2 separate regions of the Homo sapiens genome follow, and region 1 is linked to region 2. Evidence: fine-mapped expression QTL. Tissue or cell type: blood mononuclear cells. Region 2 holds a variant in brackets; the other region holds the start of a gene. All regions are shown on one strand. Distances are between the middles of the regions.

The links. PIP is the estimated chance that this variant, and not a neighbour inherited with it, causes the effect.
Region 1: it holds the start of PSME4, and the variant in region 2 is fine-mapped to the expression of PSME4 in blood mononuclear cells (TOPMed, PIP above 0.99).

The regions. Positions count from the first base shown.
Region 1 is chr2:53,966,557-53,974,663 of GRCh38, forward strand. PSME4 (proteasome activator subunit 4) reads right to left here and starts at 4,437. Exons shown (of 47, transcript NM_014614.3): 1 at 3,987-4,437. The coding sequence starts at 4,228. It also overlaps a transcript of ACYP2 not described here. RefSeq lists enhancers at 3,285-4,049, 4,316-4,610, 4,906-4,955 and silencers at 4,106-4,305, 4,280-4,441, 4,316-4,705.
Region 2 is chr2:54,027,817-54,035,923 of GRCh38, forward strand. It overlaps a transcript of ACYP2 not described here, the pseudogene RPL21P30 and the pseudogene LOC124906138. Among named protein-coding and RNA genes, the nearest start is that of PSME4, 61 kb to the left of the region's middle. The variant A/G (reference allele first, on the strand shown) is at 4,591.

The DNA of each region.
Region 1 (8,107 bases), 61 kb before region 2:
TGTCTCCAAAAAAAAAAAAAGATAATAATGTTGGAGGCAAGGCCAGATACACCTCACGTACAGATAACCTGAGGTGTTCTAACGAGCACCCGCAGCCCCTCATGAAAGGTCCAGAAAGGCAAGAGGGCAAAATCAAGTTTTTTGGGGTTTTTTTCTTTGTTGTTGTTTTTAAGATGGAGTCTCGCTCTTTTGCCGAGGCTGGAGTGGCGCTTGGCTCACTGCAACCTCCACCTCCCAGATTCAAGCGATTCTCCTGCCTCAGCCTCCTGAGTAGCTGGGATTAAAGGCGTGCACCACCATGCCAGGCTAATTTTCTTAATTTTAGTAGAGATGGGGTTTCACCATGTTGGTCAGGCTGGTCTCGAACTCCTGACCTCGTGATCCGTCTGCCTCGGCCTCCCAAAGTGCTGGGATTACAGGCATAACAAAATCAAGTTTTAAGAATACCTTTCTTCAACTCCCTTCATTCTCTACATGGGCCATACAAGTTATCTACCAATATTTCACTCACAGTGTCCATGAGCTGTCTGCCATTGTCCAAAGACCATTAATTTGTTCCTACTTTCTCTAATTTGTTTCAACTTCTCTGATTTGTTTCTTCCCTTATTAAAAATTTCCCTTGTGATGTGTTACATCACACAACCTCTCTTGACCAGACAGTTCTAGTACTTTAAATTGTCTGTACAGGAAAGCCTCTATCACATGGCCAAGTATTTAAAAATATAGAAATAACCTTTCTTCAGAGATGTTAAACAGACCTGCAAGTTTCTAAATGGACTGAACTACTAAAAATGAAGAAAAAAGTCAAAAAGAAGGCTGGGGCGGTGGCTCAGCCTGTAATCCCGCACTTTGGGAGGCCGAGGCACACAGATCACCTGGGTTCGAGACCAGCCTTGCCAAAATGGTGAAACCCCGTCTCTACTAAAAATACAAAAATTAGCCAGGCGTGGCAGCGCACAACTGTAATCCCAGCTACTCAGGAGGCTGAGGCAGGAGAATCGTTTGAACCAGGGAGGTGGAGGTGGAGGTTGCAGTGAGCCACGATAGTGCCACTACACTATCTTGTGTCTGGGCAACAGAGTGAGATTGTCTCAAAAAAAAAAAAAAAAAAAAAAAAAAAAAAGTCAAAAAGAGGGACCAAATGTAAAGCCTGAGAACCTTCCAAACCAGAACTTGGTCCCAAACACACCTCTGATGTCCAGATTACGGGTGCACATTTCTGATCAGCAAGATAGTCCCACTAACTCTCAACTGCATTTACACTTTGGTCTTTAGGAATGTACTTGATCTATGCAACTGTTTCCAGTATTTTACAAATTATTCAAACAGTTCTTGTAGAAAGATACACACAATGACTGATGTGAAGCTTGACAGGATTAAAAAAATAAAACTGCAGAATACCAGAGTAGAAATGCTTCTCAAGAATTTAGTCCAGGCCGGGTGCGGTGGCTCACACATGTAATCCCAGCACCTTGGGAGGCCGAGGTGGGCAGATTGCTTGAGGTCAGGAGTTCAAGACCAGCCTGACCAACATGGTGAAACCCTGTCTCTACTAAAAATACAAAAAAAGTAGCCAGGCATGGTGGCACTCGCCTATAATCCTACCTACTTGGGAGGCTGAGGCAGGAGAATCGCTTGAACCCGAAAGGCAGGGATTGCAGTGGGCCAAGATCCTGCCACTGCACTCCAGCCTGGGCAACAAAGCAAGACTCCACCTCAAAAAAAAAAAAAAAAAGAATTATTTAGTCCAATCCCCTCATTTCACGCACAAGCATACTGAAACACATGATTAAGTAACTTTCCCACAGTCTCAGAGCTAGTGGGAGAAACTAGATTTTCTTTTCATTACCACTTTCTATTCTACAAAGTACTAAATATGATCACCACTCAGCTTTCGTCACACGTTTTGGCATTATTCAGATGTTCACTTATGCAACACAGAAGGCTTAAAAAACAACAAGCACAACTATGAACAGGTCACCTTAACATGACTTAGGAAAAAAACACACCCAAGATCACAACATGTCCCACCGCATTCAAAATGTCTCATAGTGCAATATCAAGAATCAGTTTCCAGCATCTAACCACTATTCCAAAATAAAATTCTACCCAGTAGCATTTCTTGCTGGTTATTTAGCTATAAATGGTTATGGGTTCATGGGTATTAAGCCATCAGCTATCTGCAATCCAGCCCTAAACACCAAACATTAGCTCCATTGTTATTTTTAGCCCTTTCTAGGTACAAACTTTTATCTAATAAGCCAAAACAATAACAAAACTCGGAGTGCTAATTTACCAAACTTGTTAACAATAAATACTTTAGAAAACAATGCTTAACTATGCCTTGGTAGATTCTAGGTTTATAAATCCAAAGCAGATATGCCTTCACACCATGGCATATTTATATAATGTACACTAAAAAAAGCTGTTTGCGTCCCCAAAAATGGTAGGTATTCTCTGGCAAGTCTAATCCAAGTGATTAAAATGGGGAATTACTGTAACAAAGTGACTATTTTTACTGTGCCTGAGCAACACAAAAACCTAGGAGTCTCACTTGAAAAAGCATTTGGATTTTAACTATTTATAAAATATTCTTTTTTGACTAAACGTGGTTCTCCCTGTTGCATTCCTGCTTCTGCCGCCCCTCACCTCCATTCTCCTAAGGATCCTAACACGAAAAACTTCATTATACTCTAGTCAAGGGGAGAGCTGTTAACCTTGACATTTTATGATCACTCTCTGAAGAGGGCAAATTACATGTTTTAGTTTTGCTTCTTTTTAATTAAAAAGGTCCCACCCACCCCTCAAGTGGAAATGAGAAATTTGTCAGAGGCCCCTTAATAATTGGCAGATGAGAATCATCCAGTGAATATACACAAAACTATTACAAAACCCTGAGTCATCACTCAGTTCAATCAGCAGCTTTGGGTAAACACTGAATGAGTGAGTTATGTCTTGTGTGTTCACCCGTCCATACCCACATGCGTGAACATACCATGTTACTAGATTTTATGTACAGTTAACCAAACAAGATACAGCAAAATTCTTTCTTAAAAAGCTCTTCGGACACAGTAAAGATGCCCATCCAGCAAGTAAATGTAACCTTTTTTCCCCCACTGTATTTTCACTCGTTTTTTTTTTTTTTTTCCTAATTTCAGTGACACTATAGTTTGAAGCTAGTTTACAAACAGAACTCCTGAAACTGATTTAGGTAATCTCTTAATCTGAGTAACTCAAAAAATTAACACAAGCCTGATACTAATATCGCCCTGGACATCCTGACAGTGCTCTTCCCTACTTTCCTCAGTATCTTAAATGTCTCTCCAAAAGAAATGTCACAACAGGAGCAACACACAATCCAAAACAACACTGTCCACATAAGACGTTAAGCTCAAGAATGAGGTCTGACTTTAAACGACCCTTTTCGATCAACTCCGCCAGGTCTGAGAGGGCCCCCAAAAAGCAAAACCCTTAAGTTTCCCTATGGTCTTCTCTCCATTCAGAAAGTTACTAGACGCCAACGGAGATGCGAAGAGGCGGGGATCGTAGGGGAAGGAAGAACCGGAGGAAGCAAGGAGACAAGTCAAGGAACTCCCCCAAAGACAAATTCTCTTTGCCCCGCCTCTCCCATGCGCAAAAGTCCACGGAGGACCCTTGAGAAAGGCTCACCTCTCTCCCTCGGGGCCGGGGCCCTTGGGCTACCCAGGGCCCCCCAGGTGGGAAGACAACAACCCGAACACTTCGGGAGAAGCAGATGCGGAGGACGTAGAGGGATGGTAAAGACCCGGGAAGTCCCGTAGGAAAGTGGCAGGGAGGACGGCTTGAGTACTTCACAGGCTCTGTCACGACCCTGGGATCACCGCTCGGGGACAGCTCCAGCGAGGACAGAGCTAAGGGTCCAGCCCTCTGGACAAAGAGCAACCATCCCCGACACCTCTCACTGAGCCTTTCCCCCCGGCCCGGCCCGCAGGCCCGGGCACACTTACGTGGAGAGTTTCCTGGTCCAGAAGAGGCCCCCGGGCCACAGCTCTTGGAGCTGCACGGCCCGGCCCAGGTTGCATTTGATCTGGGCCAGCTGCAAGTCGGACTCGGCGTCTAGCCGCTCCGCGTAGGGCAGCAGCTTGTTGTAGACGATCTCCTTCTGCGGGACGAAGCCCCGCGGGCCCGGCTCGGGACGCCCGCCCGGCTCCGGGGGCTCTCCGACTCCCGCCCGCTCGGCCGGCTCCATGAGCCCAGGGACACCCCCCCCACCCCCTCCCACCCGAACCCTCCCCGGCCCCCACCCCTCTCCGGGCTCCGCCTCCTCCGCGTCTTCGTCGCCCTGCGGCCGCTGGCGGCCCGTCGCCCTCGGACCGATCGCTAGGCCCCCTTCCCTGGCCGGCGTGCTGCTGGGCCCCACGCGGCTCTCAGTTCGTTGGCGGCGGCAGCGGCCGCTCTGCCCGCCCCGCACCGGCTCTGCTGGTGACGCTGCAGCCGCCGGGCCCAGAGGTTCCGGACCGGCCTCAAGTCACTTCCGGGGCGGGGCGGGGCGGAGCGACGGCGTCGGGGGAGGCGGTGGTGGCGGCAGCTGGAGCCCAACGGGCTGCGCCTTCTTCGCCGTGGGCCCGGCTCGGAGCCCCCACCCCAGGCCTCACCGGCCCAGCGCGAGGCTGCCTCACCGGAAACACGAGGCCGAATTCCAAGCTATTGTCCTGCTTCGCCGGGGGTCGCGCACTCCAAGCGGCAGCCCACTGGAGTCCCAGTCGCCACGACAGGCGGCAGCCAGGTCGGCCTGGTCCCCCTAGCCGAGCAGCCCCGGCTTCTGGGTTAGAGGGGTTTATGGAAAAGCCTACGTACCCACTTGCTCCTTATAGATTTATTTACTCCATCCCGCTTGTTCCTTATAGATTTAATTTTTCTGTCCCCTTTAAGTCCCCATCTTTCTGGTATTCTGGCCGCCATCATTCCAAAGAAGAAAATAGTTACTCGCTGAACAAATGCTATTTGAACAGCTGTTTTGTGTGTAAGGCGCTCAGTTTAGGCTATTGAGATAGAAAGTTTAACCTGGTTTCCGCCCTCCCAAGGACTTAGTCTAGCAGAGATAAAGACGTGAATTACAAGATAATGCTCTTAATTGCTAGATAAGTACAAGAATCCTTAGGAACTCTACAAAGAAGTTGAAACTAGGGGGTTTGAGAGGGTGTCATTTTCCTAGAAGTGATACTTAATTTAAGCTATGAAGGTTGAGTGCAAAGTTGGTTAGAAAAAGGAGGGAGGAGGACACGTATTTCAGCTGAGAGAACAGCTTTGACGCTGCAAGCATGTATTCTAAAAATTCAAAGTTCAAAATAGCGTAAGAGAGGGGACGGAGAAATGAGACTGAGAAGGCAATCCTAAGGAATTCAGAGCTTTATCCTAGAGACAAACTTCCAAAAGATTTTAAGCATAGCAGTGGGATGATATAATTTACATTTTTTAAGAATTACTCTGGCGGCCGGGCGCAGTGGCTCACGCCTGTAATCCCAGCACTTTGGGAGGCCGAGGCGGGCGGATCACGAGGTCAGGAGTTCGAGACCAGTCTGGCCAACATGGTGAAACCCCGTCTCTACTAAAAATACAAAAAAGTTAGCCGGGCGTGGTGGCGGACGCCTGTAATCCCAGCTACTCGGGAGGCTGAGGCAGGAGAATCGCTTGAAACCGGAAGGCGGAGGTTGCAGTGAGCCAAGATCGCGCCAGGGCACTCCAGCCTGGGCAACAAGAGCGAAACTCCGTCTCAAAAAATAAAAGGGCCAGGCGCGTGGTGGCTCACGCCTGTAATCCCAGCACTTTGGGAGGCCGAGGCGGGTGGATCACGGGGTCAGGAGATGGAGACCATCCTGGCTAACATGGTGAAACCCCGTCTCTACTAAAAATACAAAAAAATTAGCCGGGCATGGTGGCGGGCGCCTGTAGTCCCAGCTACTCGGGAGGCTGAGGCAGGAGAATGGCGTGAATCCGGGAGATGGAGCTTGCAGTGAGCCGAGATCGTGCCACAGCACTCCAGCCTGGGTGGCAGAGCGAGACTCCGTCTCAAAAAAAAAAAAGAGTCACTCTGGCTTCGTCTGGAAAATGGGTTGGAACTGACAAGATTGGGAACTGGAGGACCCTTTAAGGTGTGACATAATCATGGCCTGGATGTCAGTTGAAATTGAGAGCTACTTCAGCAGAATGGCTTGGGCTTAGTAGTTGACTGAAAGTGAAAAATTAAAAAGGAAAGAGACAAGACGACGCTGGGTAGATAGGTGAAGTCCTTCACTGAGATAAAGAACACAGCAGAAACAGCTTGGGAGGCAGAATGCCTATGGGATGGGTATGTTGACATATGTATCAGGAGGGTGATCTAAACTGAGATGCAGATTAGCGTGTAGATGGACGACAGGAGGGAAGGAAATATACAGTATGAAAAAATAGGGCCCTTCACAAATCTCTGAGGAGCCCCACATTTAAGGACAGACAGAGAAAAGGAAGGTAGGCCACAAAGAATATTCACAAAAAGCAGAGAGAGGAGGAGTTCTAGGAAACTGGGTGTCTCATGGAGAAGCGAACAATCCTACCTTAGGTAGCTAACAGGTCAAATGAAGTGAAACCTGAAAGGGTTTATTGGATAGTTTATTGATAAAGCGCATAAGAACAGTGTCGTTGGAGTGTAGAATAGAAATCTGATTATGGTGACAAAGGACAAATGGGAAGTGAATAAATAGAGGCAGCAAATATGGACAACCTTTTAAAAAATAATGGGGTAGGGAGAGCCGGAAAGAGATGAGTGTCAGGCCTCTGAGCCCAAGCTAAGCCATCATATCCCCAGTGACCTGCATGTATACATCCAGATGGCCTGAAGCAACTGAAGATCCACAAAAAAAGTGAAAATAGCCTTAACTGATAACATTTCACCATTGTGATTTGTTTCTGCCCCACCCTAACAGATGAATGTACTTTGTAATCTCCCCCACCCTTAGGAAGTTTCTTTATAATCTCCCCAACCCTTAAGAAGGTTCTTTGTATTTCTCCCCACCCTTGAGAATGTACTTTGTGAGATCCACCCCCTGCCCCCAAAACATTGCACTTAACTCCACCACCTATTCCAAAACCTATAAGAACTAATGGTAATCCCAACACCCTTTGCTGACTCCTTTTTCAGACTCAGCCTGCCTGCACCCAGGTGAAATAAACAGCCATGTTGCTCACACAAAGCCTGTTTGGTGGTCTCTTCCCACGGACGCGCGAGACAATGAGGAGGTACTTGGAATAAAAGGAGGGATTTTTGAATGTGGGATATATATATGTGTGTGTGTGTGTGTGTGTGTGTGTGTGTGTGTGTGTGTGTGTGTATATATTTTTTTTTTTTTTTTTTTTTTTGAGTCTCACTCTGTAGCCCAGTCTGGAGTGCAATGGATCCATCTCGGCTCACTGCAATCTCCGCCTCCGGGGTTCAAGTGATTCTTCTGCCTCAGCGCCTCGAGTAGCTGGGACCACAGGTGCGCACCACCACATCCAGATAATTTTTTTTTTTTCGGTATTTTTAGTAGAGACAGGCTTTCACCATATTGGCCAGGCTGGTCTCGAACTCCTGACCTCGTGATCCGCCCGCCTTGGACTCCCAAAGTGTTGGGATTACAGGCTTGAGCCACTGAGCCCGGCCATATTTAGATATATTTAAATATGGATGAAAAGGAGCCAGTGGAGAGAGAAGTTAAAGATATTGGGTGAGGACGACAAAGAGCGGAAGAGAATGTGGAGTCATTGACCTTTAGAAGCAAATCAAACTGTGCTTCCATTGTCAGAGGAGGAAAGCAGGGAAGGAAGCATAGGTGCAGATGCTGGAATGTTTGGTACTGGAAGTTGGAGAAGTTCTTTCTATAGTTTCTATTTTTTCCTATGAAACAAGACAATGAGAATTATAGGGAAGTGGTAGGTAGATTTGAGGAAATTGAAGAAGCCTTAGAGTAGTCTCAGAATTCAGAAAATTGATTTAAAAAGTTAGAATTGTTTGGCAGGTAAGGCTGGAAGCTTGAATTTACTATTATCTATCTGCACAATTTAATGATTTTTTCCCTAATACTGTTTAGTGGCCCAGGATTGTGTGACATAC
Region 2 (8,107 bases):
TCATGTTTCTTTCTTTCTTTCTTTTTTTTTTTTTTTTTTTTGAGACAGAGTCTCACACTGTTGTCCAGGCTGGAGTGCAGTGTCACGATCTCAGCTCACTGCTGCAACCTCCACCTCCCGGGTTCAAGTGATTCTCCTGCCTCAGCCTCCCAAGTAGCTGGGGTTACAGGTGCCTGCCACCACACCCGGCTAATTTTTGTATTTTTAGTAGAGATAGGGTTTCACCATGTTGACCAGGCTGGTCTCGAACTCATGAGCTCAGGTGATCTGCGTACCTTGGCCTCCCAAAGTGCTGGGATTATAAGCATGTGCCACCGTGCCTGGCCTTAGTCATTATGTTTCTTTGGGCTACTCTTGGCTATGGCAATTTCTCAGACTTTTTTTGTTTTTAATGACCTTGATAGTTTTGAAGACTACTCATCAGATATTTTGTAGAATGTTCTTCAACTGGAATTTGTCTAATGTTTTTCTTATTATTAGACTGGGTTTATGGGTTAAGGGGACGAGAATGTTGGGACTCAGAAACCAATACTCCAAAATATGGCATTCTGACATGCTGAATTGAAGAAAAAGCCTCAAGGTCTCTCTGACTTTCCCGGCAATTCCCCTCAGCCTCCTGGCTCTCAATCTTATTTTTCTCTCTGTAAACATGGGATGATGTTCTCTGAAGTTCCCTCATCTACTTAAAGTCCAGACCCACCAAAGAAGAAAATAGTTATTTCTGGTACCTTCTCTGAGTTTTTATTAACTGAACTCAAATCACAGGAAGAAAGACTGAAGTCTGTCAACACACCTGGATGGACAGACTTTTGTCACAAACCATTGTTTTCTCAGCAGATCCAATAGACTTTGTCCCAGGCCATTGTATGTTCTTCGGTCCCATTGAATTCCCCTAAATACCATTTACTACTCTCCTAAAATCATCCACTCTTCCCCATCTCCCTTTCCCCTAAAAAGAAGGGCATATAACCATCTGTAGTTCATTGCATAGTTGGGAAACGCTCTGTGGTTCTTCCCTGCACACGTTAATAAATTTGCACACCATTTCCCCTATTAATCTTGCTCGGCACAGTGGTTTACTTCTGTAATCCCAGAATTTTGAGAACTGGTGGCTGGAGGATCATTGAGCTCAGCAGTTTGAGACCACTTTGGGTAAGATAGTGAGACCTCATCTCTACAAAATATATATATTTTAAAAATTAGCCAGGTATGGTGGTGTTGCCTGTGGTCCCCAGCTACTCAGGAGGCCGAGGTAGGAGCATGGCTTCAGCCTGGAAAGCTGAGGCTGCAGTAAGCCATGATGACACCACTGTACTCTAGCCTAGGTGACAGAGGGAAATCCTGTCTCAGGAAAAGAAAAAAAAATCTGCCCTTTGTCAGTTGATTTTTCAGTGAACCTTCAGAGGGTGAAGAGGAAGTTTTCCCTTCACTCCTACAAAAACTACAGCGGTGGAGTACCATTTTCATCACACATATCAAGGGTACATACTACCAGCATAACCTCTCACTGTTGATGTTTACCTTGATGACCTACCTGAGGTCATATTTACCAGGTTTCTTACATTTTATTACTTTTTTTTTCCGTCCAGAGGTCATATATATACATATATATACACACATATGTATATATGTATATGTACACACACATATATGTGTATATATGTATTATGCATGAATTCATAGGGAAGTGGTTCCAGCAACTCAGGCTCCTTCCCATTGGTTCTCTCACATTGTCTTCTCTGGGTGGAGCTGACTGGTGCTTCAGTTGAATCCAGGTAACTTTCTCTTTGGCTTCCTTCTTTTTCTGATCATTTTCCTTCATGCGTTTCAGGAAATTCTCTTAGCTTGTAGAGTGCTTAAAGTGCTTAATACCCACGTTAATTCTCTTGGCAGGAATCTTGCCCTTAACTTGTTTGTTTACAACAATGCCAACAGCATGCTGGGGAACATTGTAGGCTCTTCCAGTTTAGCCATGGTGACACTTGGGGGGCATTCCTATTTGAACAGTGCCCACTCCCTTGATGTCTACAATATCACCTTTCTTACAGATTTGTTCCCAGAACCAAGCCGGGTCCGGCTGTGTTTTCTCGAGGCCCGCCAATAATGAGAAGCAGACAAACTAGGAAAGAAGGGAATTTATTGCTGTAACCAGATACAGGGAGAAGGCCCGAGATAATTCCACCAGACCAATTCAAAGTGTTACAATTTTCTTAGTGCTTATGTAGGTTGAGGTTATGAGCCCAAGACCAGTCTAATATTCACCTAAGTCTATTGGTAGCTAATTTTGTTTCAATTAGAAGGTCGGAGGCAAAAAAATGCTTGCTAAGTCTGATTAAACTGTGGGGGCCCCAGGACCTTCAAGGCCTGTCTACTGTGATACTGGAGTGATTATTTCTATCTTATCTCCTTTACGGCTTGGCCTGGCGAGCTGCCTTAGACTCTCCAATGAATCTATTCAAACAGCTGCCTCTGTTACCTTGACTCGTCTCAGATTTCGTCGACTCCTGGCACAAGGAATGTATGACTGTCTCTATTATTTTGGTTTGCTCCAGGTTAGGGAGAAGCCCATGCAAGGCTCCTACTGACCATATGTTTCATTTCTAGCTTTGATGTCTGGGCACTGATTTCCCTAGGTTTAACTATTTGCTCAATGTTAAGGCAGTGCTATGGAAACCTGTCTGTCTAACTGGAGTGCTATGCAGGCCTGTCTGTGTGACTGTCATGCAGCCCCGTCTGTGCAATTGTCAGGGAGAGTTGGCCTGCCACAGATTCGCATATACATGGCCAAAGGAACAACTCCACGTTTTCTAAACGGCCTAGAGAATATCTACCCAGCGCCTCTCCTCTCTCCCTTTGTGTTCGTTATTTTGGCGAATTACTGGAAGACGGCGGTTCCAGCTGAAAGGCCATTTTAATACTTTCAAAATATGTGTATTTTTTTCATTTTTATACATTTGCAAAATAATGTCTCTAAAAAATAATAACTGACCTTTAGTACTCCTAACCTTATTGTTTTCCTTTCCCAAAGTTTCCTTCAGTAGAAATATAAACAAGTTCACCCAAATTAGTCACTGAAGCTCTCCAACTTCCTTTTCTTTTTCATTATGAAGGTCAGATCTGTGCCAATCATTGTGTGTGTGACAGTGACCACAGCATACTCTATGCCCTCAAGAAACTCATCCTCTAGGAGGAGGTGGCCAAAGCAGTAAGGGGCGCAGACACAATGTGACATGTGCTATAACAGAGGAAGTTCAGCAGGTTATGTCTCATTGGTGTCAGGGAAGGCTTCTTGGAGGAAAGCACTTCTTCTTCTTTTTTTATTATTATACTTTATGTTCTAGGGTACATGTGCACAATGCGCAGGTTTGTTACATATGTATACATGTGCCATGTTGGTGTGCTGCACCCATTAACTCATCATTTACATTAGGTATATCTCCTAATGCTATCCCTTCCCCCTCCCCCCACCCCACATCAGGCCCTGGTGTGTAATGTTCCCCACCCTGTGTGCAAGTGTTCTCATTGTTCAATTCCCACCTATGAGTGAGAACATGCAGTGTTTGGTTTTCTGTCCTTGCGATAGTTTGCTCAGAATGATGGTTTCCAGCTTCATCCATGTCCCTACAAAGAACATGAACTCATCCTTTTTTATGGCTGCATAGTATTCCATGGTGCATATGTGCGACATTTTCTTAATCCAGTCTATCATTGATGGACATTTGGGTTGGTTCCAAGTCTTTGCTATTGTGAATAGTGCCGCAATAAACATACATGTGCATGTGTCTTTATAGCAGCATGATTTATAGTCCTTTGAGTATATGCCCAGTAATGGGATTGTTGGGTCAAATGGTATTTCTAGTTCTAGATCCCTGAGGAATCGCCACACTGTCTTCCACAATGGTTGAACTAGTTTACAGTCCCACCAACAGTGTAAAAGCGTTCCTATTCCTCCACATCCTCTCCAGCACCTGTTATTTCCTGACTTTTTAATGATTGCCATTCCAACTGGTGTGAGATGGTTTCTCACTGTGGTTTTGATTTGCATTTATCTGATGGCCAGTGACGATGAGCATTTTTTCATGTGTCTTTTGGCCGCATAAATTTCTTCTTTTGAGAAGTGTCTGTTCATATCCTTCGCCCACTTTTTGATGGGGTTGTTTGATTTTTTCTTGTAAATTTCTTTAAGTTCTTTGTAGATTCTGGATATTAGCCCTTTGTCAGATGAGTAGATTGCAAAAATTTTCTCCCATTTTGTAGGTTGCCTGTTCACTCTGATGGTATTTTCTTTTGCTGTGCAGAAGCTCTTTAGTTTAATTAGATCCCATTTGTCTATTTTGGCTTTTGTTGCCATTGCTTTTGGTGTTTTAGTCATGAAGTCCTTGCCCATGCCTATGTCCTGAATGGTATTGCCTAGGTTTTCTTCTAGGGTTTTATGGTTTTAGGTCTAACATTTAAGTCTTTAATCCATCTTGAATTAATTTTTGTATAAAGTGTAAGGAAGGGATCCAGTTTCAGCTTTCTACTTATGGCTAGCCAGTTTTCCTAGCACCATTTGTTAAATAGGGAATCCTTCGCCCATGTCTTGTTTTC[A/G]TCAGGTTTGTCAAAGATCAGATGGTTGTAGATGTGTGGTTTTATTTCTGAGGGCTCTTTTCTGTTCCATTGGTCTATATCTCTGTTTTGGTACCAGTACCATGCTGCTTTGGTTACTGTAGCTTTGTAGTATACTTTGAAGTCAGATAGCCTGATGCCTCCAGCTTTGTTCCTTTTGCTTAGGATTGTCTTGGCAATTCAGGCTCTTTTTTGGTTCCATATGAACTTTAAAGTAGTTTTTTCCAATTCTGTGAAGAAAGTCATTGGTAGCTTGATGGGGATGGCATTGAATCTATAAATTACTCCCATTCACAATTGCTTCAAAGAGAATAAAATACCTAGGAATCCAACTTATGAGGGATGTGATGGACCTCTTCAAGGAGAACTACAAACCACTGTTCGATGAAATAAAAGAGAACACAAACAAATGGAAGGAGATTCCATGCTCGTGGATAAAAAGAATCAATATTGTGAAAATGGCCATACTGCCCGAGGAAAGCATTTCTAAGGAGGGACCTGAATGAGAAGGAGTTAGTCAGATAAAGCTGGAAAGAAAGAGTTCCAGGCAGAGAAAGTGGCTTCTACAAAAACTATTGACAAAAACCATTGTATGTACAGTGTTGGGTATTTAGGCAGTTTATGAGGATTAAAGCCCAAGGCAAACTAATCAGGGTGAACAAAGAAAGGTGGCTCAGAGCAGTCTGAGCTTTGTGAGGTCTGCGAAATTAATGAGGCTCACAGAGATATGAGTGTGGGAGTGTGGTTAGGCCCCTCAGTCGTGCCTGTGGGCAATTTTTTTTTTTTTTTTTGAGACAGGGTCTTGCGTTGTTGTCCAGGCTGGAGCACAGTGGTCTAACCAAGGCTCACTGCAGCCTTGACCTCCCAGGCATGAGCTATCTTCCGACCTCACCCTTCCAAGTACTTGGGACCCCAGTTGTGTGCCACCATGCCTAGCTAATTTTTGTGTGTGTTTTGTTTTTTTTTTTGGTAGAGACAGGGTCCCACTGTGTTGCCCAGGCTGGTCTCGAACTCTTGGGCTCAAGCAAACTTCCTGTCTCAGCCTCCCAGTGAATTAAGATTACAGGTGTGAGCCACAATGCCTGGCCTATCCACACATTTCTATATGAATTTACTTTTAGGAGAGTGGGGGAATGATGAAAATTGTGTGTTATATAAGGTTTTGCCTAATGTGTGAGAAACACTGGTGTAGACCATGCTGAAGACAATCTGGAGCCCCTGAAAGCTTTCAGGCAGGGGAGTGACATGATCAGACCTGCATTTTGGGAAGATCATTCTGGCTGTAATGTGGAGAACAGACTGCAAGGAGCCAACCAAGGTAGCATGAAGACCAGCCGGATGGCTGTTGCCATAATCCAGGTGAGAAATGATGGTGGTCTGAAGTAAGGTGTTAGTAACAGAAATAAAGAAAGAACATAATGATTTTTTCTCCCTAGATTCTGAAAAGAGTTGGCTTCACTTTTCCCAGAAATACATGCTGTCAAGACCAAATGAATCATAATATTTCAGACATCCTGAAAGATAATGGGGAAATACAGTTATGTGTCACATAATGACATTTTGATCAATGATAGACCAAATATAATAGTGGTTCCATAAGACTGTAATAGCAGTGTTACAGCTCTTTTAGAAGCAGGCTTTTTGGTTTTTGCCAGAAAGCCCAAAATAAAAGAAAAGACTCCCAGCCCTTTGTGAGGCCAAGGTGGGTGGATCACTTGAGGTCAGGAGTTTGAGACCAGCCTGGCCAACATGGTGAAACCCTGTCTCTACTAAAAATACAAAAATTAGCCAGGCATGGTGGTGGGCACTTGTAATCCCAGCTACTCGGGAGGCTGAGGCAGGAGAATTGCTTGAACTCAGGAGGCGGAGGTTGCGGTGAGCCGGGATCATGCCACTGCACTGCAGCTTGGGCAGCAGAGTGAGACTCCAACCTCTACCCCCCAAAATAAGACTATAATACTGTATTTGTATTGTACCTTTTCTGTGTTTAGATACATCTAGATACACGAATACTTACCATTGTGTTACAGTTGCGTACAGTATTCAGTACAGTAACATGCTGTACAGGTTTGTAACCTAGGAGTGATAGTCTATCCCCTATCACCTGGATGTGTAGTAGGCTATACCATCTAGGTTTGCGTAAGTGCAGTCTAAGATGTTTGCACTACGATGAAATTGCTTAACAATGCATTTCTCAGAACATATTCTCAATGTTAAGTGACACATGACAGTATATTTACAACAGGGATATTTCCCATATTTCTTAAATCATATCAATAGTGTAATGGTTAAAAGATTAGACTCATCTGGGCACGGTGGCTCACGCCTGTAATCCCAGCACTTTGGGAGGCCGAGGCGGGTGGATCACGAGGTCAGGCATTCAAGACCAGCCTGGCCAACATAGTAAAACCCCGTCTCTACTAAAAATACAAAAAATTAGCTGGGCGTCGTGGCAGGCGACTATAATCCTAGCTACTCAGGAGGCTGAGGCAGGAGAATCGCTTGAACCTGGGAGGCGGAGGTTGCAGTGAGCTGAGATCATGCCACTGCACTCCAGCCCAGGCGACAGTGCGAGACTACATCTCAAAAAAAAAAAAAAAAAAAAAAAGCCTAGACTCTGGTTAAGAGGTTTAAGAGGTTTGAGTCCTCACACACTGACATTTAAGAGCCCCAGCCTTGGGCAAAATCACTTAACTTCTCTAGGCCCCAGTTTCTTTTTCGGCAAAAATGGGGATTTCAGCTGTTGCTACCATGTTGTGATTTCATGAGCAAAGGTATTCACTTCTCCTACTTTTTAGACCGGCCCTGACTCTAACTAGAGACAATTTCTTTTTCTTTTTCTTTTTTTTTTTTTTTTTTGAGACAGAGTCTCGCTCTGTCGCCCAGGCTGGAGGGCAGTGGTGCGATCTCGGCGCACTGCAAGCTCCGCCTCCCGGGTTCACGCCATTCTCCTGTCTCAGCCTTCCGAGTAGCTGGGAGTACAGGCGCCCGCCGTCATCCCTGGCTAATTTTTTGTGTTTTTAGTAGAGACGTGGTTTCACTGTGTTAGCCAGGATGGTCTCGATCTCCTAACCTTGTGATCCACCCGCCTCGGCCTCCCAAAGTGCTGGAATTACAGGTGCAAGCCACCGCTCCCGGCCTAGAGACAATTTCAAAAGCAAATTGTTCAGTTATCTTTTGAGTAGTGGTATTAAATTTATACTCAACCATCTACATGATCACAGTTTGACCCATTTGTGACAAATTTCAGACAATTCTAGGATTAGAATGGCTACCTATAATTTTCGGTTATAGAAGAGAGTGAAACTTACCTGTTGGCACCAGGCTTTTACCCAATGGTAGATGTTTCCTTCTTATAATTTGTTAACATTTTGGGTGATCATGGAGAAGTACCTTCTAAGGACTTGAGAATGAGGAAATAAGATTGCCCTTTGAGAATAAACTGTAGGATCAGAGCAGAAAAATATTAAATTTCCTGAAGGAGACAGGCTGAGTCTTA